Linked DNA regions of Homo sapiens: region 1 is linked to region 2. Evidence: fine-mapped expression QTL. A gene starts in region 2. The other region holds a variant in brackets. All regions are shown on one strand. Distances are between the middles of the regions. Region 1 overlaps SARS1 (seryl-tRNA synthetase 1). Region 2 holds the start of SARS1 (seryl-tRNA synthetase 1).

Region 1 (16,834 bases), 31 kb after region 2:
GGGATTTTTTTCATATATATGTTGTTTTCACATACTTATAATTGCCATGTACATAAATTGCCTTTTAACTTAGCATTATTTTTAATTTTTATTTTTATTTATTTATTCATTTTTTGAGACAGAGTCTCACTCTGTTACCCAGGCTGGAGTGCAGTGGCACGATCTTGGCTCACTGCAACCTCTGCCTCCTGGGTTCAAGTGATTCTCATGCCTCAGCCTCCCGAGTAGCTGGGATTACAGGCGTCGCCACCACACCTGGCTAATTTTTTTTTTTTTTTTTTTTTTTTTGAGACGGTATCTCACTCTTTCACCCAGGCTAAAGTGAAGTGGCATGATCTCGGCTCATTGCAACCTCTACGCACCGAGTTCAAGGGATTATCCTGCCTCAGCCTGTTGAGTAGCTGGGACTACAGGCATCCACCACCATGCCCGACTAATTTTTTTTTTTTTTGTATTTTTAGTAGAGATGGGGTTTTGTCATGTTGGCCAGGCTGGTCTCGAGCTCCTGACCTCAGGTGAACCACCCGCCTTGGCCTCCCAAAGTGCTAGGATTACAGGCATGAGCCATTACGCCTGGCCACACCTGGCTAATTTTTGTATGTTTAGTAGAGACGGGGTTTCACCAAGTTGTCCAGGCTGGTCTTGAACTCCTGACCTCAAGTGATCTGCCTGCCTAGGCCTCCCAAAGTGCTGGGATTACAGGCATGAGCCACCGTGCCTGGCCACCTTTTTATGTATCATTATATCAAAAGTATTTTTCTGTGTTACTGCATGGTCTTCATTTTTATGGTTGTATAATATTACATAAATAATGTTACAGTGAACTTTGTCCTGTCTGAACTTTTTTTTTTTTGCATTATTTTCTTCAGTTGAACAGCAAAGTATATTCTTTAAGGATCATAACCACTAACCTGTAAGCACCAAGAAAGCAGAGACTGGTGTCCCTTTTTGCTCCACATTGGTGTTTAGTAAACGTCTCACAAGGATTAATGTATGTGGCTACCAGCACAGGTTTATTGCATACCTGCCAGCATTGACCATTATTCATCATGGATGAGTTTTCTGTATTAGATAAGTGGAAAATAGCTGGGCACAGTGGCTCACGCCTGTAACCCCAGCACTTTGGGAGGCTGAGGCAGGTGGATCACCTGAGGTCAGGAGTTCGAGATCAGCTTGGCCAACATGGTGAAACCTTGTCTCTACTAACAATACAAAAATTAGCTGAGCGTGGTGGCGCGTGCCTGTAATCCCAGCTACTCAGGAGGCTGAGGTGGGAGAGTCGCTTGAACCTGGGAGGTGGAGGTTGCAGTGAGCCGAGATTGTGCCACTGCACTCCAGTCTGGGCAGCAGAGTGAGGCTCTGTCTCAAAAGCAAAAAAAAGATAAGTGGAAAATATTCTTTCCTCTTAATTTACATTTCTTTGATCTCTGTCAGGGACCCCATTTTGGACTGACCCATTCCTTTATCTTTTTAGTATTCTCTCCCCACTCCCAGGCAGGGATTAAAGGAAATTTTTCCTGCACTATTATTGATCTCTTTCTTGTGGTTTCTTATTCTAGCCAAGGTCCTCCCCACTTCCTCTTAACTGGTATAGCTCCTTCCTTCCACAGGTGATTGGCAAAGGCAGTGAAAAGTCTGATGACAACTCCTATGATGAGAAGTACCTGATTGCCACCTCAGAGCAGCCCATTGCTGCCCTGCACCGGGATGAGTGGCTCCGGCCGGAGGACCTGCCCATCAAGTATGCTGGCCTGTCTACCTGCTTCCGTCAGGAGGTGGGCTCCCATGGCCGTGACACCCGTGGCATCTTCCGAGTCCATCAGTTTGAGAAGGTGAGTAGATGGGTCAGGGTAAGGAGTGGAACTTTCTCTGTCTCCAGAATGGTTAGATGAGAGATAGGATCTGTGTTGCTGAGGCCCATCCTGGCTCCAGCTTTTCCTCTCATTGCTTACCTCTGTGTTTCTGGGGAAGTGCATGGTGGAGTGGCGTGGATTATGGACCCTGAAACCAGGCTGCGGCTTTACCACTCACCAGCTGTGTAACATTGGGCATAATGCATAAGCCCCCAGTGCTCCATTTCTGCCTTTGTATGAGGAGGATAACAGTAACAGTGCCTGCCTCACCAGGCCTATTGTGGCCTATTGTGAGGATTATCCCAGTCACTATATGTAAAGCACTCAGAACAGGGGCTGGCATGCATACGGGAAGCTCGCACCATAAGCATTTGCTCTTGTGGTCCAGTCCCAGTTGCTGGGGGCCCAGACTTGCCTGCCTCCCAGTGGTGTGGAAACAGGTCTTCATGGCAAGGATGTCTCCCACTTCAGTCCTTTATTCACCCTATACCGCTGTCACCGTTTCCTTGGGTCCCTCTCTGCAGATTGAACAGTTTGTGTACTCATCACCCCATGACAACAAGTCATGGGAGATGTTTGAAGAGATGATTACCACCGCAGAGGAGTTCTACCAGTCCCTGGGGATTCCTTACCACATTGTGAATATTGTCTCAGGTATGGGACCCAGCCTCTTCTCAGCCTCCCTTTCCTGTAATCCCAGACGCCACCCTTACCAGCTGAGCTGCCACACAGAGAAACAGCTCACAATTCAACTCATTGCCCACATTAATTAAAATATTACACTCTTCTCACTTGGGAGTATTTGGTGTTAAGAATATCTGGGTGTGATTTCACCTCTGGAGACAGGACATGAATTAAAGAATTCTTCAGGCTTGCTAAAGGTTAGCCTTCTGAAATACCATCCCTCCTTCATGAATTCTAGGGGTTTTTCCTTACAGGTTCTTTGAATCATGCTGCCAGTAAGAAGCTTGACCTGGAGGCCTGGTTTCCGGGCTCAGGAGCCTTCCGTGAGTTGGTCTCCTGTTCTAATTGCACGGATTACCAGGCTCGCCGGCTTCGAATCCGATATGGGCAAACCAAGAAGATGATGGACAAGGTAGATGGCCCCCAGGGAGGTGGGAAGCAGAGTCTTCAGTACACGGCCCGTCCGAATTATTTCTCAGCCTTTGGGGTGCACTGGTCCCCAGCATCATGGGAAAATCTGAGCTTCTCAATCTAGACCAAAAAGGGAATCTGAAAATGCCTTCTACTGAGTCAGGACTGAGTTCTTTTAGCTAGAAACCTGAATCTAGCTCTCTTCTATAAGGTAATTCTAGCTTTTCTCTTTCTGGCTTTGTTTTTCTTAACTCCAGAGAAAGAATAATCTCCATTTATCTACACAGAACAAGTTGGAGGCTTCCCTCTTCTCACCCAAGAAGGTCTGGGTTGTAAGCTGCTCTCTTCAAACCCAATTTTCAGGCCCTACTCTTTTCCAAGTCAGGTGCTTGAAAGGGGTGAAAAGGAAAGGCCACAATAGTAGTTTCTTCCTTCCCTCAAAGGGCCCAACTCTCAGAATACCAGAAGCTACCACTTGTCACTCATCGAAACATGAGGGATCTTTCTGCAGTTATCTAATAGGCAATAAATACCAAATAATTCAAATTTAGAAAAAAGTTGCTAAGGGGTAGAACCCATCATTTTGATTTGGACAGTTGTGGTTGGGGAAGTCTGGTTGAATGGATGGTTCCTGGCCGTCAGTAAGACCCGATGAGAGTTGAGCCCGACTTCCCCTCTGGGACCCTGTCTTCCCAGGTGGAGTTTGTCCATATGCTCAATGCTACCATGTGCGCCACTACCCGTACCATCTGCGCCATCCTGGAGAACTACCAGACAGAGAAGGGCATCACTGTGCCTGAGAAATTGAAGGAGTTCATGCCGCCAGGTAAAACTCCCAGCTCATCTCATCGTTCTCCTCTTTTCTGTCTTCACACTCTTCTAAATAGCAGTCCCCTTTCAGGATATACCAGGTTTTTTTGTTCAGACACAGCCCCTGAAACTCTGTCTGCCCTCTCGGGCTGGGCAGGGCAGGGGGCCTGGTTGAGAAAGTAGCCAGTGCAGGTATGATGTTGAAATGCTGCTAAAATTCAGACTAGGGAAGAAAAGAATAAAGGAAACCAGTGCCTATCAAAGGGACCCCTCTGTTCAAAGGGATCATTGTCTTGTTGAATTCTCCCCAGAGGTCTTAGGGCTTTGACTCACTGAGAAACAACAGGTCATTTGGTTGGCTCTTCCCTCCCAGGACTGCAAGAACTGATCCCCTTTGTGAAGCCTGCGCCCATTGAGCAGGAGCCATCAAAGAAGCAGAAGAAGCAACATGAGGGCAGCAAAAAGAAAGCAGCAGCAAGAGACGTCACCCTAGAAAACAGGCTGCAGAACATGGAGGTCACCGATGCTTGAACATTCCTGCCTCCCTATTTGCCAGGCTTTCATTTCTGTCTGCTGAGATCTCAGAGCCTGCCCAACAGCAGGGAAGCCAAGCACCCATTCATCCCCCTGCC[C/G]CCATCTGACTGCGTAGCTGAGAGGGGAACAGTGCCATGTACCACACAGATGTTCCTGTCTCCTCGCATGGGCATAGGGACCCATCATTGATGACTGATGAAACCATGTAATAAAGCATCTCTGGGGAGGGCTTAGGACTCTTCCTCAGTCTTCTTCCCCGGGCTTGAACCCCGCCTCTGAGGTTCTCCCTGATATACACTTCTGCTTTTCCTTCCAAATTAGGCTGCTCCCTCCAGTTAGCAAGTCACAGAGCCTTTGAACAGGTAAGCGAAGGGAGGGGTACACTTAGAAAAAGCTCAAGGGGAAGGTGGAAGATGGAGTCTGAATCACAAAAGCTTGCAGGGCAAGGGCCAGGATCCTCCTTTACAAATATATTCCTGCTTGAAATCATTGAGGTAGGACTAGCTTAGAGACCAGAACTGTTTTAAAAGCCTCTTAGCACTTCTGTTCCCTACAAAGGACTCTGTGGAAAGCGAGAGGCTGTATTTAATCCAGAAGAGCCCCTAGCTTCTATGCCTAGCATGGGTTGGGGACTTATTAACAGCAGTTTCTCTCGTTACAGCCATCCCCACATGGGGAGACCAACTGCATACCAACTTGCTGCTGCACCTCCAAAGGATTGGGATAGCCAGCAGGGCAGAGGAGAGGAGAAAATGTTGTAGCCCCTTTGTGGAGCTCCCACTGTTGCCCTAATAGCCAGTTCCTTTCTCAGGGGAGGCTGATGTTCAGGCTGTTTATTTACCTGCTGCCTTTCATCTGCAATCTACAAACCCTTTACTTTAATAACAGCTTCTGTTAGTTTAGTGCCTCTCTCCTAGGAGGTTAAAATACTCCCTATAGATGATCTCTTTTATCTTTGTGATGGTCCCAGAAGGTAGGGTGGGGACATGATTATATGATTATGCTTATTCCATCCTTTGGAAGACAGAAATACAAGGACGGTAAGGGAGATGAGACAACGTGGCCTGATGGAGGTCGGAAGTCCTGACTCCTCGGCAGTGCTTTATGTTTCTTTGGGAGGTTGAGAGCTGGAATGTGAACTGGGCTGTCACTTAGGAGCCTTTATCTCACCTCAGCTTCCTTAGTCCCTGAGCAGCGACTTGGGCCTGCTGGAGCATAGTACCAAGGAAAGGGGCCATGTGCTCCATTTTCCACTGGGGGCTTGAGATTGATCCTATTAATCTTGCTGCTGGAAACCCTGTCAAAACTGAGGTAGGTGCGTGAAGGGGTGACAGTGGCTCTCTTGTCTTGCCTGGCTATGCCAGCTGGGGGCCCACAGGCAGACCCGCCTGGGCCGTAGCCCATTGCCCCAGCTCTGGGATAACAAAGCCGGGACAAGGGGACAAAGAGCAAGCTGCTCCCATTTGTAATTCAGAAGGACCAGAAACTCACATTTCCTGTGGCCTCAACTATTTGGTTTGAAGAAAGGCAGCGTACACAGTGTGCAGGAGGCTAGTTTTGCCCCACCCCCTATACCATTCCAGAAGCCCACTGGGAACTCTCACAGGGCCCTGAACGCCCCTGCTCTGCCTTAGCTCTGTCTTAGAAGTCCCTACAGCTGCCTGCACCACTCCCCACGCCTACCTGCTTAGGCTCCTGGTGCCTGTCACCTTCCTACCAGTAGGAGGCTCTGCTTTTTGCCATGGCCCTGAGAGCTCTGTGGGAGGGCAGAAGCTGGGGCTTTGAGTCCCTGAGGACCCAGCTGACTTACCTGCTGGAGCTGGCTGCCTGGACTCTCAGCTGCTTTGTGCAGAGAGACCCTCCTGCCTTGGGCAGCCCAGCTTTCCCTGCCAGCCTTCCTCCTGCCCGTGTAGGGACTGGTGTAGGAGCCTGGCTAGGAAGATGGCTGTATGGACAAACTGGCTTGTTAGCAGAAAGTAACTATAAGGGACCCCATGCTTCCAGAAGCCAGAGGAGAGGAAGTCAATGGTAGTGAAGGCAAGGATGACTGTGGCTGAGGTCCCTCCCCACAGGTCATACCCAAGAGCACAACAGCAGGAGGGCACACACGGTCACCGAGTGCTTACCTTGTGCCAGGCACCATTAGGAGCAGGGTTTACAGAAAGAAGGTAACACAGTTCCTGCTCACAAATAACTGTTGGGAAAGGTGTGGTTCGCCTTCCTTCAGAGAGGGAAAACCAGACACTCTCCCTCCCTGAGGCAGTGGGATGGGGCTGATGCAAGCTTCATTTAGGAGGGGCCGACCCACCTGGAAGCCGAGCAGTTGGGAACAGGCCCAATAGCCTTGACTCCACCCTGGTAGTTGCCTCCGCATCCCACGCCTGATGCCCTCATCTCTGGCACCTTGACCTGCCCCATCTCCAACCTCAGCTACCCAGGTTACCTCAGTTAGCAAACACCCTCCAGAGGCCTAGTGGAGTGAGTCAGAGCCCTGGGTCCCTCACCAACCCTGGGTTCCCACACCCAGGTATTCAGGGCCCAAGATGCAGGTCTGGGTGCTTTAGGCAGGGAGTGAGGAAACACTGGGACCAACAGTCTGGCCTCTCCACCAAGAGAGACAACCATAAGCCAGACTTCTAGAAACTCTAAAGAGGCTGGTAACTGGGGACCCAACGTAAGGCCGAGGGACCTGCCTGCGCTCACAGTCCAGGCTGGGCAGGGCAGCTCATTAGCCAAACACTGAAACCTCACTCCTGGGAACCAACATTCTCCTAGCCGTCTGTCCTGCTTTTCCTCCCCTGAAGCTTTTCCGGTTTACCCCAGGTCCTGAGAATGCCTCCTCTCCCCGAGTCCCCATCCTTCCCCAGGGGGTACGCGGCGGGGGCGGCCCTGGCTGCACTCCCAGGATGAGTCTGACAGGCAGAGCTGGGATGGGCGCCAGACAAATGTACTGCGTGTCGGAGCCTGTGCCGGGATGAGGGGCCTGCCCCGCTCTCCCAGTTACCTCCCAACATGGGGTTCCCCAGCAGCTCTTCCCAGGTACAAAAGGGGAGTGCTTCCTTGCAGCCTGGACTTGGCCAGGTCCTGGTGGGGCTGATGCCTCGGCCTCTGACATTGCCCTTTTAAGAGCCCTCTCCGGCGGGGCCAACCTGTAATCCCAGCGCTTTGGGAGGCCTAGGAGGGCGGATCGCCTGAGGTCAGGAGTTCGAGACCAGCCTGGTTAACATGGTGAAACTCTGATTCTACTAAAAATACCAAAAATTAGGCGAGCATGGTGGTGCGCACCTGTAATCCCAGCTACTCAGGAGGCTGAGGCAGGAGGATCGCTTGAACCCAGGAGGCATAGGTTGCAGTGAGCCGAGATTGTGCCACTGCACTCCAGCCTGGGTGACAGAGTGAGACTCTGTCTCAAAAAAATAAAAATTAAAAAAGCCCTCCCCATGGGGGTGGGGTGGGGGTGCTGCAGGCAGGTTCATGTTGCAGAAACCCAGCAATGTGCAGCTCCCCATCCATCTGCCAGGAAAGAAGCCCTGAACTCCAGGTCTTTACCTCTCTGGGACCTTCCGGCGGAGGTAGGGTGTCCCAGCCACCTCCGAGAGAACCTCTTGTTACGGAGGGGCGGGTCCTCTTCTGCTGCTCTGACTGGCTGGTTCACAAGCCCTGCATTTTGGAGATTGGTCCCTGTCCCTCCATGGGACTTGGTTCCCTTCCCCCTACACAAACCTGCTGTCAAAATGGTCTGGGAGTTTATTTTCATTGGGGTGTAAATTGCTGATAAGACGGTGTGACCTTCTGGGACAAGTGGTTTTTAAACCTGAAGAAATTGAAGAATTAAGCTCCCATTTGGAATACGCTTCATCCTTGCCTCCTTCCATCTTGTCTCAGAGAAAACCTTTTTTTTTTTTTTACTCCTTCTCCAAAACCAGGTCTTATCTACTTGTGCCCTGGAACTCGCCACCATCCTGCTTCCCCTGAGTCCTTGTTCTTGAGCTAGCTCTCTGCTGAACCTCCCGCCCCACTTCCCCTCAGTCCCGACCTGCTAACATATTCCCCATCTGAAAACAGCCATCCTGCACTCCTGCCGCTCCTGTCAAATTGCGATCCCATCTGGCTCCTCTCCCTCAAAGATGAATGAACAGTGGACACTTGCAGGCTCTGTTACCTCATTAACATTCCTGGCCCTCCTTCACCCCATTCCCCTCAGAGGGAAGGTGAACTGTTCCAGAGGGAACTGCACGAGGGGACAGGAAGAAGGCCTGAATGGCTGAAGCATGAAGTAAGGGCGATACTGACTGGAGGCTGGAGATGTGGGCAGGGTCAGGAGATGGCACCTGACCCTAATGCTGGCCTCCACCTCCGCTTTCCCTGCTGCTCTGTGACCTCCACATGCAGGGCTCTCAAATCCATTCTCTCTCATCTGAGCATCTCCACCCACCCCCAGCATACACATTGGGCATCTCCTCTTAGTATTCAGGCACCCCAACACACACCTGAGACTCACCCTGGACAACTCCCTCCTCTTCATCTCCAGGGGCCAGTCTGTTTCGCAGCGCCATTGAGTCTTCATCACTCAGGTCTGCCCCCTTGACAGCCTGCTCCCTGGCCCCAGCACAGCCCTCCTCCTCCTGGACTATTACAGCGGCCTCCTTGCTAGTCTGCTGGACCTCAGTCCCTTCTTCCGGCGCAGCCTCCTCACTGTGCCAGATTAGCCTGCCAGATGGCACAGCCATGATCATTCCTCCCCTGCCAAAACACTTCAGATGGTTCCCCTCAACTTATAAGGTCCAGACTTCTCAGCTGGAGCCCCAGCTCATCAAAATGTGCCCCCAGTTCAGATTAGCGGCTCTCTGCTCCTTATTCTCACCGCCCCCTTGTTTCCTCCTGTTTCCTGGCACTGACCGTGTGTTGCACCTCTCCACGCTTGCTCACACTGTTCCCCCTGCCTGGATGCCTTTTCCTCCTGCCTATTAGTGGAATTCTTCCTTCCTCTTCAAGATAGCTCAAATGCCACTTTCTTTTTTTTTTTTTTTTTTTGAGATGGAGTTTCACTCTTGTTGCCCAGCCTGGAGTGCAATGGTGCGATCTCGGCTCACCGCAGCCTCCGCCTCCTGGGTTCAAGCGATTCTCCTGCCTCAGCCTCCCAAGTAGCTGAGATTACAGGCATACGCCATCACACCTGGCTAATTTTATATTTTTAGCAGAGACGGGGTTTCTCCATGTTGGTCAGGCTGGTCTCAAACTTCCGACCTCAGGCGATCCGCCCATCTAGGCCTCCCAAAGTGCTGGGATTATAGGCACGAGCCACTGTGCCCGGCCAAATGCCACCTTCTTTAAAAAGCCCTCCCTAACTCCTCCACCCCCACACAAAAATATTAGTGACTATTGCTCTGTGACAGCTTTTGTCTCTGTCCAAGGGACTGGCTGTCCCTTGGGGACATAGCTCATCTGTGTACCTCTCACACTTAGCCACCTACCACCGTGGCTGGAGCATGGCTCTGGCCAGACAGGGCCTCCTTCCTTGGCCTGCTCTGACAGCCTGAACAGCCACGTTATTCAGAGGGTGCTTAGGGATTTGCCGCTCGAAGCTCAGCCCCAGGTTCCATCTCTTCCTGCCCGGTGGTCAGAGGCAGTATTTTCAGCTGGATCTTAGATGGCTTTACATCTTTATGGAATGCTGGGCCTATTAAGCCACCCTTGACAAAGAACACTGGCACTGTGGGTGGAACCTATCACTAGGATAAAGCATCCAATATCATCTTTTAACAAGCGCCAAAGAAGGTCTATCTCACAGGGCTGGGACATCAAAACCTCTACCCCTGGCTGCAGCAGGCATGGGGAATGCAGTTTTGTGGTTAAAGTGAATGAGTTCAGGGCTGCCCTTAAAACAGCCTAGAGACCCAACTGGCCTACCAGATGGTGGCTCCAGGCATAAAGGGACATGTGGTCACCCCTCTCTTCCATCCATCCATCCATCCTCCATTCATGTATTCATTTTATCTTTTATCTTTTTTTTTTTTTAAGACAGTCTTGTTCTGTCACCCAGGCTGGAGTGCAGTGGAATGATCTCGGTTCACTGCAACCTCTGCCTCCTGGGTTCAAGTGATTCTCACGTCTCAGCCTCCCAAGTAGCTGGGATTATAGGCGCATGCCACCACGGCCAGCTACTTTCTGTATTTTTTGTAGAGACAGAGTTTTGCCATGTTGGCCAGGCTGGTCTCAAACTCCTGACCTCAAGTGATTCACCTGCCTTGGCCTTCCAATTTGCTGGGATTACAGGCATGAGCCACCATGCCTGGCCCATGTATTCATTTTTTGACCAATATTTTCCACGTGCCTACTGTGTGTGTCAGGCCTGTGCTAGGTGCTAGGTGATAGGCATTCAAGACATATGTGTTCTCGCTGGTCCTGGAGCTCACTGCCAGTGGGTAAGACTGATGTTAGCCAAGTGAATACTCTAATTACAAGTTGTCATATGTGCCAGGAAAGTGGGGGCATTTAAGACTGCCATGTTCAACAGCTGGAAGGAAGCCAGCATGTCCAGAACAGAGTGAAAGGGGAGGAGTGAGAAGAGGCTGGGCCACTCCACACTGGACTTTGTGGATAAATATAAGGACGCTGGATTTTATTCAAGGTACAACAGAGGCCCACGGCAGGGTTTTCAGAAGGGGAATGACATGCTCAGATCTAAGGCCGTGCAATAGTACCCTGTGAAGGATACCATTAGGTATCCTTTAATCAGATAAATGCAGAATGTGGCACTTCAATAAGAAAACTGGACTCTTCAGTCGATGTCAACAAAAAAGGAAAGAGAGAGAGAGAGAGAGAAAAAAAAAAAAAAAAGAGTGACATATGACCAAATGTAATCCACGAACTTGAAAGCAGCAGCTGTCTAAGACCTTTGGGAGACAGTAAGGAATTTGGATTGGACTGGATATTAGATGATACCAGGAATTCCCCTTCATGTTCCTGGTCGAAGCAGCAGTCCTGTGGGTGTGCAAGAAAGGGAAGAAGGGGAGGCACTTGGAAAATATTGGTCAAAAAATAAATACCTGAAATGAGGAAGGAAGGATGGATGGATGGATGGATGGATGGATGGATTGATGACTGGATGGATGGCAGAGAGGGCTGACCAGATGTCTCTTTATACCTGGAGCCACCATCTGGTAGCCCAGCTGGGTCTCTAGGCTACTCTAAGGGCAGCTCTAAACTCATTCACTTTACCCACAAAACTGCATTCCTGGCCAGGCACAGTGGCTCACACCTGTAATCCCAGTACTTTGGGATGCCGAGGCGGGCGGATCACAAGGTCAAGGGTTTGAGACCAGCCTGGCCAACATAGTGAAACCCCATCTCTACTAAAAATACAAAAAATAGCCGAGCATGGTGGTGCATGCCTGTAATCCCAGCTACTTGGGAGGCTGGGCAGGAGAATCACTTGAACCCGAGAGGCAGAGGTTGTGGTGAGCCGAGATTGTGCCACTGCACTCCAGCCTGGGCAACAGAGCAAGACTCCGTCTCAAAAAAAATTAAAAAAAAAAAATACTGCATTCCCTGACTCTCAGGAGCTGCCTGCGGAGGGGCCCAGGGCTCAGGCACCTCATTTTCCTCTCATTCTTCAAAAATTGAGAGACATAAAGCAGAGTGTCAACAATTATTGAATCCAGACACCAGGCACAGTGGCTCACATATGTAATCCCACTTGAGACCAGGATTTGAGATCAGCCTGTGCAACACAGCAAGACCCCCTCTCAAAAAAAAAAAAAAAAAAAAAAAAAAAGCTGGGCATGGGTGGCCTGCACCTGTAGTCCCAGCTAGCTACTCAGGAGGCTGAGGTGGGAGGATCACTTGGGGCTGTTCTCAAGCAGTCAAGGCTGCAGTGAGCTATGATCACACCATTGCACTCCAGCCTGGGCAACACAGTGAGACCCTGTCTGAAAAAAATAAAATAAAAATTGTTGAATCTAGCAGGAGAATATCTGGGTATTTATTATACCATTACACCATTCTTTTGATTTTTCTGAAGGCTTGAAATTTTCCCAAATAAAAAACTGGGGGAGATTTTTTAAACCTAAAAATGTTTATTAGTTTAAAAAAAAATTACTTTCACTGCCGAGCAGAGACTGGTTTGGAGGGGAGGTGACCACATGAAGAATCCATAAAATCCTGACTGAGTATCCCCCTCTGTGACAGACCTGAAGTGGGGAACTGAGAAACAACAGAGCCCCCACAAGGAGTGCACCTTCCAGCCTTGAAGAAAGTGGGGAACAGTGGGCGGGGCACGACAGGCAAGTGTAGACCGAAGGGTGTTCAGATTTCTGGCCACCCCCATCCCCCAGTCTGCTGGCTCCTGGTTCCTTCACGCCACCCACCCCACAGTCCAGGAGCTCCAGGAGTCACCCATGGCCAGGTTCTCTCCTTCTGGTTTCTGTGCCCTTTCTAAAGCAGCACAGAGCCCAGAAATGGGATCGGGTGCCAGGGCCTCTTTCTCTTTCCAGAGAAACTGCCCTGCCCACCCACAAAAGGTCACCATGACCGATCCCATCAGCAGCCTCCCTCCCCACCCCTCCTTCCCAGCAGGCCATTGGTTCCAGAATTTCAGGCCACAGGGATCTGCCCAAGGCAGAGCTCACCTTGTTCTTCCTCACCAGCGTGCTAGGCCACAGCAGAGCCACCCCAATCTTCAGCTCCAGCCAAGCTGATGCTTGCATTTCATTCATTCCTTTCATTCATTCATAGTGTACTGCTTAAGAGAGTGGGCTCTGGGGTCAGATTGCCGGGGTCCAAATCCTAGCTCTTCCATTACTAGCTGTATAATCATGGAGAAGACACTTAATGTGTAGATTAAGTGACTTAACTGATGAATTCCTCTTCCAGGAATGCTGTTCCTGATTCTTGAAGATGCAGCCCAAGTCCCGTCTCCTCTAGAGGCCCTCTGGGATTTCCTCCACCCTCACTGCTCTGTCCTCTGAATTCCTTTAGCCTTTTCTCTCAGTTGCTTCTGGAGCACTTCACCCATGCGACCCTGTTGTGTTGAAAGCCAGGGCCATGCCTTATCCAGGGGGTCCTCAGGAAGCAACCTGAGTAAGGAAATCCCACCAGAGCTAAAGGACAGCCGCAAGGCTAGCCAAGCAGGTTTCCTTCCTTCCCAGAGCCTCCACTGTGAAGTGGGAGGTTTGGACTAGAAGAACAATAAATTCTCTTTTAACAGACCCCAAGCCCTTGCTGCCCCTTGATAGCACCTAAAAGCTATGCAGAAGGGAGGCCTAAATGTCCCTTACACACAGGAGGGAGGTCCATAGGTTCCTTACAACTGGAAAGCTCCATGAAGCAGGCAGCCCTTCCCTGGGGATCAGGGAGGCCTCCACCAGGGCAACCCCTCCCTCATTTGAGACTCTCAGTGATGCATATGAAACTTGGAAATTTCCCTCCTGCTTTTGGGAGTTGGAAGTATCTGAGGAAGTGATGGGGAGAGAGCTCTGTCCTGTGCCCCCGGAGGGAGGACTGGGGAGGATTAAGGACTATTTGCCAAATGTGCTTGGGGATGAAGGAAAGGGTTCCTTGGATCCCCCAACCTATCTGCCTTTGGGTGGAAAGGCCACCCACCTGGAAGGGGCTTCTGAGCTCATGCCTTCCCTGGCAACCCCTGCCTCAAGGTGCAAGGCCCCAGAACCACCTTCCGTGATCCAGAGCCAGGGCTACTCTTTCCTCCCACCCAGAAAGCTTATTTTAGCAACAAAGGGAGCGAGATGAATGGAGAGTTGCAGCTTCTCCACGGGTTGGCTTGGGCCTTCACCAGAAATGAGAGTCTCATTACCCAACCCCAATTCAAAGGATAATTAACAGATGGTATAATTTCCAAGCATTCTCTGCACCACATGGCTATTAGGTGAAGAACAAAATGCCCACGCAGCCCCTAGATCCTTCCAAACTCCAGAGTCTGAGGAAGTCTAGAGAGGCAGAGCCCTGCGGAGGCGTGTAACCCACGCCTCCATCTCCAGAGCTGCCCTTGGCCTTGCTCAGAGGAAGAAAGCTCCTGTTTGGTCAAAGGGGAGGGCATTTCCTTGAGCCATGGGTCCTCCTCCTACTTCTATCCATCCTGCCAGGAGCACAGTCTAACCCTAATCTTTCTTGCTGTACCCAAGGCCCATCTCCTTTCCTGTTTCCCCAGGGGAAAAGAGAAAAGCTGATTTCTCATCCTTGGCCTCACTGTGTGGTCACACAGACACTCCTTGGGCCTGGGGCTGGGGGATCCTCTGCTGTGACCCAGTGAGAGTGGCACCACTGTGACCGGGGGCAGTGGTAGAAGGGAGCACCTGATCCAGTGCTTTTCAGATGGGTTCCTCCAGACCCTCAAGTTGCACAGAGCAGCCCAGGGATTTCTTGGTTGGGGGAGTGGTGGAGAGGGGCAAGGCCCTGACCCCCTCACTTCAACCCAGCAGCACTACTCATCTGTTCTATATTCTGGCCTTCCACTTCAGATTTCTTTTGAAGAAAAGAATTCTACTGCTAAATAAACATTTGAGAACCATTCACCTTATTCAATCCCCTCATTTTACAAAAAGGGACATTGAGGCACAGAATTTGAGCAAGGTCACATAGCTGTGGTGTTGGAGGCTGGGACCCAGGCCCAGGCATCCCCCCAGGCCAGGGCATCCCCCCAGGGACTACCTGACTGGGCCCCTGGCTGCTCCAGGATGTAGGGAAGCCTTTTCTGGGTCGCCTGCACGGCTCCTGCCTGGCTCTCCGTGTGGTCCAGCTTCATGTCTGGTCCTCTTGGAGAACCCCTGGAATCCTGCACACCCTCTCAAATGAAGCTGCCTTGGAGAGGGTCAGGAGCCCGGGTACCAGGTAGGCCTCCTCGCTGGTCACAAAACTGTGGCGGAAGGAGGGGGTAGCCGCAGGACATGGACAGGGAGGCAGGAGGGGATGAGAGGCCGCCTCTCTAGACAGGACCTCAGGGGGCAGTGTAAGCCCCTTGTCTAGAATCCAGGAAGCCTGTGTTAAAGCTAGGCTCCACCGCAGCCGGCCTCCGAATCTGGTGACAGTGTGTTTGCACCACCTGGCTTCCACCCACTCTGACCCTTCTAATTTACTTCCCTGGAAAAGCCCAAGTGGTGTCCAACATGAGGCTGGGGTCATTCTTCCAACAGCCCGACCCCAAGGGGCATGCTGGTCAGACAACAGCCTCGCTGGTGGGGTGGAGGGGACGGTAGGGAGCGAGTGGGCCCGGTGACTCATTGTGGGTGCTTCTCTGGGATTTTGGAGGCTTTGTTGTGTTGCTCAGGGCCCTTTTAACTCTGTCTGACCTATGGGAGGGGACAGCAACGAGGGCTTTTATGACTGGAATGAACTGGAAACTTGGCCTCTGAGAGCCCTTAAAATGTTTTGGAAACCTCTAGGCATACTTAGGGTACTTCCACCATGATTATCATCGGCTGTGTGGCTTCCGATCGCTAATTCGCACCGGGCATCTGGCGAGGCCGGCCTGGGGAAATTGGGATGGAGGGTCCTGCTGGAGGGAATCCTGGCGCTTTGGGCGGAGGAGTGCTCTGGGTGGGGCCCACCTCCTCCAGCGCGGCCGGCGTTGCCGCTTTAAGGCGGCCGCGGCGCGAGCAGGTCTATGGTAATGAGCCGCCGCCGCGACTCTGCAGAGCTCGCCCGCCCGCCGGGGAGGCGAGGGAGCGCGGGGCTGGGCCCGGGGCCGCGGCGACAGGCAGCAGCCGCGGCGGGGACGCGGGGCGCGAGCGGGCGGCGCGGGACCGTCGGGGGCCGCCGGGGCCGGGCCGGGGTCGGGGCGCACGGCTACGCGGGCGCAGGTGGGCGATCCCATAGGGGCGGAGGGGGCACCCCGGCTCCGGAACCCGGGGCCCGGCAAGGCCAGGGGCGCCGCGGGGCCCCCGGGCGCAGGTGGTGAGTGCCCGGAGCGCAGGTGGAGGCGCGGCGGCAGCCCGCGGTGCTCAGGGTGACCCGGGAGCGGGTCTGGCTCAGGGGGCAGTGGGAGCCCGGGCTCGTCGGAGGGTGCAGCGCGGGGTCCCGCCGAGCCATCCAGACGCAGGCCCCGCGGGGCGCACGGGAGGCCCCCGGGGACTGGCGCCCTGGCCCGGGCATGAGGCGCGGCGGGGCCGGCAGGAGCCGGAGGAGGAGCCGCCGCCGCCGTTGACCCGGCCGCCGGCCGGGAGCTGGGAGAGATGCGGAGCCCGGCCACCGGCGTCCCCCTCCCAACGCCGCCGCCGCCGCTGCTGCTGCTGTTGCTGCTGCTGCTGCCGCCGCCACTATTGGGAGACCAAGTGGGGCCCTGTCGTTCCTTGGGGTCCAGGGGACGAGGCTCTTCGGGGGCCTGCGCCCCCATGGGCTGGCTCTGTCCATCCTCAGCGTCGAACCTCTGGCTCTACACCAGCCGCTGCAGGGATGCGGGCACTGAGCTGACTGGCCACCTGGTACCCCACCACGATGGCCTGAGGGTTTGGTGTCCAGAATCCGAGGCCCATATTCCCCTACCACCAGCTCCTGAAGGCTGCCCCTGGAGCTGTCGCCTCCTGGGC
Region 2 (13,140 bases):
TCTCTAAAAAATTTAAAAATAAACAAGGTGTTCACCAAGCTGGGATACTTCTCACTATTAAGCCCCTATCTTTCTCTTTTTTTCATTCTCAATTGCTTTGTGTGATAAAAAACTAAAGAGACTTCTGGTCCAATTTCTGGCAACATCCCTTCTGAAAGGTGAGTAGAGTGGGTGTCTTCTATGCCCATTTTCCCCAATTTTACACAAACTATTATCAATGAACTTTTAAGTACCTAGAATGGGTAAAACCAGAGCAAGACTTTAAATTACCTTCTTCTTTCTTCTACTGGCAGTTCTGCCTCCATCACTATCAGGCTAGGGTGACCTTCCCTTGGTCAAGCCCCAATTGCCCATGATTTGTGCCTGTGCCCTTTCTCCAGTGACCATTTGGTGACCAGATGGTAGATATAGAAAGGGGATGGCATTTGCAAGTGACTAGTCTGCCACAAAATGCTCATCTGATTAGCCACTGCTGCCCTGGCAATGGCTTTGTAAGAGTCAATGAGAACTAGAGCCAGGCTGTGGTCCCTGGCCATCAACAGTGTTGGTGACGGCAGGGAGTCCCTTTGGTTTAATAAATCCAGTTTTTCTTTGGGTATCCAAATTCTCCCCTCCTTTTGTAGGAGTCAGGCTCTCAGAACCTGTGTCCATGTTGGAACTTCCCCCAGTGTGGATGCAGATACGCAGCTCCTGAGCTCCAGCCTAAAGTCTTCTGTAGCCTCAGCAATACTTGGGCACCTGCTGTCTCACTGAATAGCTTTCTTTTGTGACAAAGGCCACAGACAGCCCTTAGACTATTCCGGAAACAGTAGGAAAAATTACATATGTCTTTGACTTCTTTATTCTGACTCCACTGATTTTAGCCATAATACTTTAAGGAGCTACTTTTTACTACCCCTTACCGTGCTGACTTCTGCAGGTCTGCCCTGTGACCTGTCAGGAACTCCTGAGTTACGCTACTGGGGTCACCTGTTGCTCCCCTAGCAAGTTAGGCATGTCATATATTTTTAACAGCTTTATTGAGATATAATTCACATATTACACAATTCACCTTTAAAACATACGATTCAATGGTTTTCAGCAAACTCACAGAGTTGTCCGCCCACTTGAGAGCAAACACATGTTCAATTTTCTTTTCCTTTTTTTTTTTGAGACAGAGTCAGCTTTGTTGCCCAGGCTGGAGTGCAGTGCCATGATCTTGGCTCACTGCAGCCTCCCCATCCTGGGTTCAAGTGATCCTTCTGCTTCAGCCTCCCCAGTAGCTGGGATTACAAGCATGCGCCACCACGCCTAGCTAATTTTTGTGTTTTTAGTAGAGATGGGGTTTCACCATGTTGGCCAGGCTGGTCTCAAACTCCTGGACTCAAGTGATCCACCCACCTCGGCCTCCCAAAGTGCTGGGATTACAGGTGTAAGCCACCGTGCCTGGCCTACATGTTCAATTTTCTATGAACAAAGGCTTTAGTCCTTGACCCAGGGCTAAAGTGGTCTGTCCAAGCTGTTGTTGGTAGAGGGAGTATGATAAAATGTTTAAATCTCATTTGGTTACCTTGAGTCCTGGAACATGCAGTAACTGTCATGCTATAGACATCATCTGTATTTGGCTGGGAATACAAATGAAGATTGTGGTGTATTCAAGCAGTAGGGTTTTTGCTTTTGTTTTTGTTTTAGTGCCAACAAAACTTTTTTTTGTCTGACTACATTAAAGATAAGACTGACTATATTTATACAACAGAAACTTTGTAATAGATTTTTTCAGCTTTGTGAAATCGAATTTTTTTTCATCAGGGCTGGTTGGATTTCCTTTTTACCCTGTAATCCAAGCGTTAATAGTTTGTTAGAAGATGGGTTATTGCATGTCACTTTTTTTTTTTGTAAAATAAAAACATACCTTACAAGTTGTTTTTCTTAAACATGGGTTGGGTGGCTGGAGGGGTGAGTGGGAAATGTAAGTGTCCTGGAAGCTTAAACTGAAAAGGAGAAGGATTCCACATTCGCAGAGAGGCAGAGAAAAGAGCACAGACTTTGGAACAAGATGGACATAGGCTAGAAGCCTCCCACTACTTGTTGAGGAATCAGTCAATAACCAAAGCCTCAGTTTCCACAATAATAAAATGCATCTAATGATACCCAACACACCAAGATTGAATGAGCTCAAAAGAAATAACTCATAAACCACTTCGCATGCTACTTCCCTTCCCTTCTGCTCAGGTTTCTTTCAGGAAACATGAGGCCAGCCACATAACAATAAATCCACAAATAGAAGCAAAATTAGCTTCTTTGGGTATGAAGTAGATTATTACAGACTAGATGTGGAGAAAATCCTAGATGATATCAAGGGCCTACCATTTCCTGAGGTTGCTAGATTTTTGCTTTCTTTCTTTTTTTTTTTTTTTTTCTGAGGCTCACTATGTTGCCTAGGTTGGAGTGCAATGGCACAATCTCAGCTCACTGCAGCTCCAACCTCCTGGGCTTGAGTGATCCTCCCACCTCAGCCTCCTGAGTAGCTACAGGCATGCGCCACCACACCTGGCTAATTTTTGTATTTTTTGGAGAGACAGGGTTTCACCATGTTGCTGGTCTCAAACTCCTGGGTTCTAGAGATCTGCCCACCTTGGCCTTCAAAGTGCTGGGATTGCAGGCATGAGCCAGCGTGCCTGGCAGGATTTTTCTGCTTCAGGACTTTATTCTAGTTGAGGGCACTTGATCCCCAAAAATAATTCTCTCAGCTATTAATAGATGAGTTGGGAATGTCACACTTTTCAGACTGAATGGCACTAAGTGCCAGATGTTCTTCGTCAGGGTCCTTAGGTAATTTCTAGTCTTCTAACAGGCCTCTCCGCGCCAGTGCTTCCCACACCAGTATCACCCCCCTGCTCTGTAGCCAGAGCTCTTTTTCTTTTTTTCATGAAAAGTTTTCTGGTAAAAGGCAGAAAACCTGCTAACCAAATTCTAAAAGAGGGTGTGGCGGCTCATGCCTGTAATCCCAGCACTTTGGGAGGGCCAGGCTGGAGGATCGCCTGAGGCCAGGAGGTTGAGGTTGCAGTGAGCTATGATGGTGGATTGCACCACTGCCCTCCAGCCTAGGTGACAGAGGCAGACCCTGTCTGTAAAAAAAATAAAAAAATTCTACAAGAGCTGGAACACTCAGAGCCGTTTTTCTAACACATCTGATGGCACTCAAATGTGCCATCTCTGATGGCTCCTTATTGCTGTCAGGCAGGAGCAATTGGCAGCAGCTCACCTACACTCCAAGGCTGGTTGTTTATGACCCACATCTACTTTGACTGGGTGGTACCTGGGTTGTACTGGTGGTTAAATATTTTGAACATCACCCCTGCTTATAACATACAGTCCAAACTCTAAGAAGGTAAGTAGAAAAGAAAACGCATTCGTTTGGCATCTGTGTCAAGCCTGGACTTAATGCTTTCACAGCATTGCCTTTTTTCATTTTCAGAACAGCCCTGGAGGCAGCTACTATCCCCATTACACCCATTACAATAGAGGAAGAAACTGTGTCTCCAATAGATTCAGTTACGTGGCCTACAGGGTCCCTAACGGCCCACCGGCCCACCTTCCCAACATTGTTTCTACTCTAACCACACTGAGCTTTTGATGGTCTCTGAGTCATAAGCACCTTCATGCCTCCAGCATTGGAATATGCTCTCCTCTCTGCCCCTCTGCTTCCTTTTCACCTCACAGATCCCACTCAGCCTTCCACGTCACCCCACTGTGGGAAATAACAGGGCAAAAACAGTCCCATGGGAGTACCGCTATGAATCTTTATGAATACAACCGTGTACTGTGCAATGCAACAAACAAGCAACAGACACAATCAAGCTTGAAACTGCGGGGCAGTGAGAGGGGTGTGTAATGATATGGAAATGATTTTAAGAATTTCCCAATCACTGACAAAGAAGTAAAATACATTATCAGGTGACCAGGCAAGAATATACTTACGACTTGGTCTAAATCTTAAGGAAGACAATTAATTAACTGGGAAGCATAGAGCAACAATGAGTATTAAGAGATAGAGAAACTGATTTAGGGTTTTTAAGAGCTATTCAAGGAGAATTTGAAATATAAACTAATTTTGTCTCAGTGCCAAAGTTAACAATCCCACATAAAATGCAATTCCCTATAGAGTAGTTCAGCCTTAACGGTACTTTCACTTTCCACAGTTTCAGTTACCTAAAGTCAACTTAAGTCAAAAAATATTAAATGAAAATTCCAAAAATAAACAATTTATAAGTTTTAAATTGTATGCCATTATGAGTAGCATAATGACATCTTGTGCCATCTCACTCCTTCCCACCTGGGACATGAATCATCCCTTTGTCCAGAGTATCCATACTGTCTGCACTATCCACCCATTACTCACTTAGCAGCCATCTGAGTTACCAGATCGAAAAAGCACAGTATATGTAGGGATCCGTACTCTCCGTGGTTTCAGGCATCCACTGGAGACTACCGTAAGATACAGTGTGGTGGGAGAATTGATTTCGCACCCCAATTCTATCAGATGGAGAGGCTGGATCAAAGTCCCTCCAAGTCCTGGCAGCTTTCCCCGACCCACGCTATTTTTAAATGATTCCTGCTTAGTTGCTGAAGGATAGCAACGTGGACCTCCTTTGTTACTGTGTCTCTCTGATAGAAGGGAGTGGGTAAGCCAGAACTGGAGGCAGGGTTGTCAGTTCCTCCTGAAACAGTATCATCAATACTACTGTACTGTGGGAAACGGGAAGGGTGTCTAACCAATTTGCAGGGAGGGGTAAAGAGGATGTAAGAGAAGGCTTCCAGGAGAAAGGAGGAATTAGCCAGGTAAGAGGAACAGAGAAGGGAAAGGGAGTTCCAGGTAGAAGGAACTTGTGCAACCAAAGGCTCAGAGGGAAGGAAGGGAGCCACAAGAAGGTTGGAATGGGGAATACGAGGGGGAAATGTTAAGAGATAAAGAGGGCCAGGTGAGGTGGCTCATGCCTGTAAACCCTGCACTTTAAGAGGCCAAAGTGGGTGGATTGCTTGACCCCAAGAGTTCGAGACCAGCTTGGGCAACATGGCAGAACCCTGTATCTACCAAAACAAAAACAAATACAAACATTGCCTGGGGCATGGTGGCACACATCTGTAGTCTCAGCTACTCGGGAGGCTGAGGTGGGAGGATCCCCTGAAGCTGGAAATGTCGAGGCTGCAGTGAGCCATGGTTGTACCACTGTTTTCCAGCCTGGGCAACAGAGTGAGACTCAGTCTCACATACACACACACACACACACACACGAGATAAAGAGGGAACATGTTAGAGAAGCTGGTAGGGACAGATCATATATAGCGTTGCCAGCCATGTTTGGATTCCCCTGAGGGTAACAGGTATCCACAGAAGACTTCTAGCAAGGGAGTGACAGGACCGGACTTGTTCGGTGAACATTGAGAAACCCTACTCCAAATCCAAGACAGAGGAACACAAAGGGCTGCCACAGTGAGGCCTCAGAGAACCCTTCCGAGTTAGCCAGCTCCAAACTGGGAAAACTGAGGTAGGCAGCTTTTGTTGGGTGCCTCACACCCGCTTTTTTTGCTCCGTCTCTGCAGTTGCTCTTTTCCCCTAGGCTGCCCACTAGCTGCCCAGGATCCCCAAGGCAGTATCTTCACCCAGGACTCTGCTCGCTGACCTGCAACAAGCTCCCATCCTCTCAGCCTACTTCCTCGCAACCCACTCACTCAGGGAGGATGTAACAAGCACTTACCATGGGTAAGGCAGGGTGCTAGGTCCCGTGGGGAGAAAAATGCAAATACGCAATGGTCTCTGCCCTATAAGATCAGGCCCCATAGCATAGTCAGGGTCCTCACTGACCTGTTTTCTGCTAAGGATTGCTACTAAAAGGGCAAAGCCCAAACATTAGGCTATCTTAGGTATTTACCTGTGTCCTGGTTTTGATTCCATCACTTATCTTCTCTGGGGCTGTTTCCTTATATAGAAAATAAAAGGGTTAGCCTGGCTGGCTGTTTTCCAGTCAGGGCTTCTTGAGCACTTCAGTCCTCAGAGGCAGTGCCCAAGAGCATTCTTGGTAGTAAGGGTTAACAGAAATCACATATTCAAAGGTGGCAGGGCTTCACACCATCACTCCATAACGAAAGTTTTTATGTTGATTTGTTTTTGCGTTAGCTTCTGGCAGGAGTTACTTGGTGCAGTAACACTGCCTATTTCCTGCTGATCAGAATTTCTAGGTGGCAGCCATATAGATCTGATTAATAAAAAAGGCAAATTATTATTTTTTAAAAATCATGTTCATTAGACAAAAATATTTCAAAACATGAGGGACAAGGTGATGAAAAAATCAGGAATTATTAAGTTAACAGATAGCTGAAGCTCCCCTCCAACTCTAAAAATCCCACGATTCTAAGCTGATGAAGTATGCTATTATGTTAATTTATTATACTCATCAGGTAACATCAACTTTTTTTTTTTTTTTTTTGATACAGAGTCTCACTCTGTTACCCAGGCTGGAGTGCAGTGGCGTGATTTAAGCTCACTGCAACCTTCGCCTCCTGGGTTCAGGCAATTTTTGTACCTTAGCCTCCCAGGTAGCTGGGATTACAGGCATGTGCCACCACACCCAACTAATTTTTGTATTTTTAGTAGAGACGGGATTTTGTCATGTTGGCCAGGCTGGTCTCGAACTCCTGACCTCAGGTGATCCACCCACCTTGGCCTCCCAAAGTGTTAGGATTACAGGCATTAGCCACCGCGCCCGCCCATATGAACATTTTAAAGGGAGATGTTTGTAATCTAATGATAAGATCAATTGTAAAAATGCATGAATAAATTTGGAGAGATCAGAATTTCAAGATCACTTGTTGAATGACATTGATGACCTTCCTAAAGGGTTGACCCAGTGGCCCTCCTCCCCTAGGCCTGGGATCACTTCAGCCTCAGAAACACCTGCCACTGTTTTAGAAACTTAATTGGCAATACACTTTGGCGGTGCCTTCAATGACATGGAAGCAGGGAGCGCCCCCATCACAGACCTTGCCCTCAGAAGGTTTTAGGGAACCCAACACTTTGAGGAGAGTCTTCTTAGATGTTTTCCTCCAAGACTGCAGCTCCTCACCCTTCCTTTCCACTGGTTTTAAATCTAATACCATAGGCAGGTTGAACCAAGGAGAGCACACCCAGACAAGCCCCTTTCCTCTGCCTCCCTCAGGGTCTCTACTTAGCTCTATCATTGTTGTTAGACCTGACCTACACTTCAGGGTTGGCTTGGCAGAGGCTTTTTGGGGAGCAGGGATAGTGTAAGAGGCAAAAAAAAACAAAAAACAAAAAACAAAAACAAAAACCCACACTCAACACACAACATTTCTGTGACCAGATGCAGTGGTGAGGGGCCCTGGGGGGTAAGTTCCTCAGACACCAAGCGATTCTCCAGTGGACATTGGCTAAGCATTCTATAATTCAATTCGATTCTGATTCTGACACTAGCTACCTGGAGGTAGTGTCAGATTCCATGGGGTAAGGGCTTGATCCCACTAGACTGCTCCTCTTCAGATGCCAATTGCAAGTAGTAGATTTCACCTATACTTCTTAGCAGCTATAAACTGGGGCTCCCACTACCCCCTCCTTTGGTCTGATTAATTTGCTGAGAAGGCTCACAGACCTCAAGGAAACATTTACCAGTTTATTATAAAGGATAGTACAAAGGGTACAAATGAACAGCCAGATGAAGAGATGGATAGGGCAAGGTGTCAGGGGTGCAGAGCTTCCATAACCTTTCTGGGCAAGACACCCTCCTGGCATCTCCACATGTTCAACAACCCTGAAGCTCATCAACTCTTGTTGTTCGAGCGTTTATAGAGTTTGATGTCCAGCTCCTCCCCTCCCCCTTTCCTGGAGGTTGAAGGGTGGGGATGAAAGTTCCAATCCTCCAATCACTTGGTCTCTCTGGTGACTGGCCCCATCCTAAGGTTATCTAGGGCCCCCATCCTAAATCACCTCCTTATTATAAACTCAGGTGTTATCAAAGAGACCCATTACGTATAACCCAGGAAATTCAAGGGTTTTAGGGGCTGTGTCAGGAACCAGGGACAAAGCCCAAATATATTTCATATTATAAATAAATAATATGATAGTTAGCTATGTCACACCCTCATCTCAGGAGTCCATGACGGCGGTATAAGATCAAGAAGGTCTTAGCACATCTAGCTTCGAGAAGGCATTGGAAGTGAGGCTTTAAAGTTTCTGCAGAGTGGAAGGATTGGGGGTGGGGGTGGGGGAGGAGATCACCTGTTCCCAAATCCTTCAAATAATCTCTTGTTATCAGGGAGATTCTTTGATAACTTTGGCTTCACTCGGCAACTAGAATATTTCATTTAAAGGTCTGAACATTATAAAATCAAAGTATGATACAAACCGTTCTTCAAGACGCTTTCAAATTGACCCAAGACATGACCTCAACACCTTATACGGCGTTCAAATCTGCTTAATGTCCCTTTGGAAAAGTTTTCTCTCGTCTCTCTCTAAAAGACAACCGCACTTTCCCAAAGCTGTGCTCTTAAGAGTTGGTAAAGTGACAATTTGGTTTATCCAATAATCAGATTAATAAAGGTATACCATTTCTAAGGCACGAGAGCAGGAATCTTAAGCTGAGGTAGCCCTGGGACTAAATATGCCATCCTCTTGTATCAAGATGGAGAAGACGGCCGAGGTTCAGGGAAAGAGCCCAGTGGAAGAACCCAACCTAGTGAGAGGAAAACGGGCACCTGGTGAAGGCCCCGGCCTCTAAGCTAGGGATGAGGGGACAGGCCTCTGCCTAGCCTGAGACAGGAGTAGGAAACTGAGGCATTCACACTTTTATGTGGCGATCACAGTTCCTGCAGACTGTAGCAGAGCTGGGGAGCAGGAACCAGAGGTATAGTCCCACGCCCACCCACTCTCCCCTCCCCTCCCTCCGCGGCCCCGCCTCCAACCAGCCGCTTCCGGTCGCGGGGAGGGTCGCCTGCGGGCTCCAGCTGCGCCTGCGCAGGAAGGGCGGGTCAGCGCGCCGGCGCAGTGCGGCGGTCACAGGCTGAGTGCTGCGGCGCGATCCTTGCTTCCCTGAGCGTTGGCCCGGGAGGAAAGAAGATGGTGCTGGATCTGGATTTGTTTCGGGTGGATAAAGGAGGGGACCCAGCCCTCATCCGAGAGACGCAGGAGAAGCGCTTCAAGGACCCGGGACTAGTGGACCAGCTGGTGAAGGCAGACAGCGAGTGGCGACGATGTAAGTACCGGGACGGGCGGGTTACCTCCTTGATGCTAAACCCAATTTTCTCTCTCAAATCCAGCCACCGCTCCTGAGGCCACAGCTTCCACCCTTCGTCAGACCCCCTCCCAGGGTGCGGTGGCTCCGAGGTTCTCCCCATCCCCGAAAACACAGCCTGGTCGCCGGGGTCATCCCACTTTCTCCTCCACCCGGGCGGAGCGAGGTCCCTTCCACGCGTGCTCAGTGCCGTTCGCTGCCAGTGTGCGTACGCACGCGCATCGGGAGCTGTCAAGCCTTCCTGCCCCAGGGGTTGCCAGAACATGCCGGGGCGGGAGGTTGTGGGGTCTACGCGGCTTTCCTAACACGAATCTTTGGTCCCCCCCAGTCTTTTTCTCATCTTCAGCAAGGCCAGAGTGGTTTTCCTTTGTTTTGATAGGATCAAAGGCTTCTCCTGAGACTGCGTCACTTCTGCAACACAGTAGATTCATTCCTTCGGTATCGGAAGCATTTCGGGGCGTTGGAGGCCGCTCTTGGCCAAAATAAATGACCCTGAAGCTTTTCGGAAGGCCATCCCCCGACCTATGGGCATACCTTTAAGAATTAGAAAAGTCTTTTCCGTGGTAGATCAAACGCGAGGGGAGTGAGGAGGCGAGCAAAAGATTGTAATGACTGAAGCTGTTTAATTGTGATTTGTGGACGTTTTCCTTTAAAGACATTGGCAGAGTTGGGCTAGAACCTGGAACTGCCGGATCTTGGAGTCATATCGGGCATCTATCATGAAGCCGAATAAAACCATAGAACCATCTGCCCATAAATCTCTGCCTGTATTAACTGGAGTGGTCGCTGGTTGGGCGGATGCTGTCAAGTACTTGTGATTTGATTTGTCTGATGCAATAGGTCTGCAACCATCTGGGAGCTAGGTCGATGACAGTACACTGCAAAGGCAGCCACTATCCAAGAGTGTGATGGATTTCTATTAGGAAAATTGATTTTCTCCTGTTTATAAGGATCTTGGATGTCAAAAGAATATTTGTTTAACTTGAGTTTTGTGCTGATTCTATGTCTTAGGCCCTCTATTGTAGTAGTTTGTTTGATTGTGAGATTCCACACTTGACCTGAAGTTTCGAGTTGCAATGGAATTTAATTTTGCCACATTTTTTGTTTAGGATAAAACTAGCCTGAGCACTGTTCTACTGAATCTGAAGTCAGGAGTATCAGATTTTTGTGTCAGTCCAGCCCTTAGCCAGTGCTAAATGACTTTGAATGTGTTAGCTAGTCTTTTGGGTATAATGTCCACATCTGAGGGATTTGTCCCTTATCTGAAAAGTAGATAGGTGGTGAGTTCTTCAGGGACAAGGATTCAATTTTATTCATACAGTATATATGTGGATATACATATACACATTTATACATAAAATCCCAGTACCTAGCACTGTACCTGGTCCTTGGTAAGGCCTTGATAAAGGTTTGTTAGAGGCGTGAATATTTTCTGTCTTCAGGGCACTTTATATTCTTTATGAAAAGCAGTTTATGTAGTTTATGTTATTGTTTTAAAAAACTTAATCCTAAATGTGAAGTCATTTCTTTTCTTTGTTTTGTTTTGTTTTGTTTTTGAGACGGAGTCTCTCATTATCACCCAGATTGGAGTGCAGTGGCACCATCTCGGCTCACTGCAACCTCCATCTCCCGGTTTCAAGAGATTATCATGCCTCAGCCTCCAAGTAGCTGGGACTACAGGTGTGCACCACCACACCCAGCTAATTTTTTTTTTTAGTTGAGATGGGAGTTTCACCATGTTGGCCAGGCTGGTCTCTAACTCCTGACCTCAAGTGATCCGCCTGCCTCAGCCTCCCAAAGTGCTGGGATTACAGGTGTGAGCCACCATGCCTGGCCAATAGTTTATTTCCAATGCATCTATTAATTTGATTCTTTTCTATTTGACAACCCTTTCCAATATTCTCTTTGCATCCAAATGGAATTTATGTTTTTTCCCAAGTTCCCAACTGCCCAAGGTAGACACTGGCAGATTTATATCAAGGTTCTTTGACATCTTGAACTTCAGATCAGAGGATGGAGTTCTTCTCTCATTGCCTTGAGCAAGGGCTTATAACCAGAGCCACATTAAGAACTCAGATCATGCTCCCTAATTGAGGACACATAGCAAGCTTCACCAAGCCCTCCACTACAACTATACCAATTTGTCTTCCTGTAGACTTACAAGGTACCACTAGGGTTCCTTTGGAGAACTCAGGAGTCCAGTATAACTTGGAGTGATAATACCACATTGGAACTCACAACTCTTCTAACTCCAGGGATTTGAATGTGATTTCTTCTTTTTAATTCAGAGTAGCGTAATGATCCTACACTTGGGCATATTTGTCTTGGCCCCACTCCCAAAGCAAATAGATTTCCATGTAACTGGAAATCTGCTGCAAACCCCAAGAATTTTATCCTCCCTCAAAAAGTGCTATCCTGAGTGGTTTTTTTTTTCTTTTTACTGTACATTGAAAATTGAAGTTGTTGTTTCCTTTTTTTTTAATTTGAGACAAGGTCTCACTGTGTCACCCAGGCATGATCACAGCTCACTGCAGCCTCAATCTCCCCAGGCTCAGATGATCCTCCTGCCTTAGACTTCTGACTAGCTGAGACTACAGGCGCAATGCCACCATGCCTGGCTAATGTGTGTATTTTTTGTAGAGATGGAGTTTCGTCATGTTGCCTAGGCTGGCCTCAAACTCCTGGCCTCAAGCGATCCTCCCACCTCGGCCTCCCAAAGTGTTGGGATTACAGGCATGAGTCACCATGCCCAGGCTAAAGCTGTTATTTCCTCATAACCTTTACTGCACATGTTTTAAAACAGGTCCTTATCATTGTTTGCCCCAGCAACTGGAATAGCTTTCTATCTGCTTTCAATCTTAACCCAGTCTCACCAGGGCATATAATCTTTCTAGAATGCAAATCTGATCATTTTACTTGAAGGCTTAAGTTTTGCAGTGACATACTTTAGAGCAGCACTGTCTGATAGGAATAGAATGTTAGCTTCATGTATACAGATGCTCCTTGACTTAGGATGGGTTTATGTCCCAATAAATCCACCATAAGTTGAAAATATTGTAAGTAAAAAATGCATGAAATACACATACCCTACTGAATATCATAGCTTAGCCAAGCCTACCTTAAATGTGCTCAGAACACTGATGTTAACCTACAGTTGGGAAAAATCATCTTACACAAACCCTATTTTATAATAAAGTGTGAATATCTCATGTAATTTATTACTATTGATCATAAAGTTTAAGCATTATAAGTTGGCGATAGTCTGTAATTGTTAATTTGTTTGTATCCAATATAAAAAATATAAAGAGAAACAGATGAAATTAATTTTAGTAATACATTTTATTTAACCTAGTCTTGTATACCCAAAAGTTATATATATATAAATATATATATAATTATTATTATTATTTTTAGACAGCGTCTTGTTCTGTTGCCTAGGCTGGAATGCAGTGGCATGATCACAGCTCACTGCAGCCTGGACCTCCTGGGCTCAACTGGTCCTCCCACCTCAACCTTCTAAGTAGCTGGGACCACAGGTGTGCACCACCATGCCCAGCTAATTTTTAATTTTTTGTAGAGACAGAGTCTCACTTTGTTGCCCAGGCTGGTCTCGAATTCCTGGACTCAAGTGATCCTCCCACTTCGACCTCCCACACTGCTGGGATTACAGGTGTGAACCACCACGCCCAGCCCCGAAATTATATTTTCAACACATAATCAGTATTTTTAAATTACTGAAACTAGCCCGGTGCGGTGACTCACTCCTGTAATCCCAGCACTTTGGGAGGCCGAGGCAGGCAGATCACAAGGTCAGGAGATCGAGACCATCCTGGCTAACACGGTGAAACCCCATCTC

What was found. PIP is the estimated chance that this variant, and not a neighbour inherited with it, causes the effect.
Region 1: its variant is the best candidate, but not a certain one, in a credible set for the expression of SARS1 in lung (TOPMed, PIP 0.84).

What each region holds. Positions count from the first base shown.
Region 1 is chr1:109,233,600-109,250,433 of GRCh38, forward strand. SARS1 (seryl-tRNA synthetase 1) reads left to right here. Exons shown (of 11, transcript NM_006513.4): 7 at 1,611-1,832; 8 at 2,378-2,507; 9 at 2,792-2,949; 10 at 3,645-3,774; 11 at 4,132-4,583. The coding sequence ends at 4,289. It overlaps CELSR2 (cadherin EGF LAG seven-pass G-type receptor 2), which reads left to right and starts at 15,940. Exons shown (of 34, transcript NM_001408.3): 1 at 15,940-16,834. The coding sequence starts at 16,481. RefSeq lists enhancers at 3,402-4,601, 6,542-7,237, 8,896-9,395, 15,257-15,977 and silencers at 5,726-6,140, 7,248-7,542, 15,979-16,038, 16,199-16,298. The variant C/G (reference allele first, on the strand shown) is at 4,391.
Region 2 is chr1:109,204,884-109,218,023 of GRCh38, forward strand. SARS1 (seryl-tRNA synthetase 1) reads left to right here and starts at 9,035. Exons shown (of 11, transcript NM_006513.4): 1 at 9,035-9,245. The coding sequence starts at 9,110. It overlaps ELAPOR1 (endosome-lysosome associated apoptosis and autophagy regulator 1), which reads left to right. Exons shown (of 22, transcript NM_020775.5): 22 at 1-1,898. RefSeq lists a silencer at 8,829-9,048 and an enhancer at 9,099-9,458.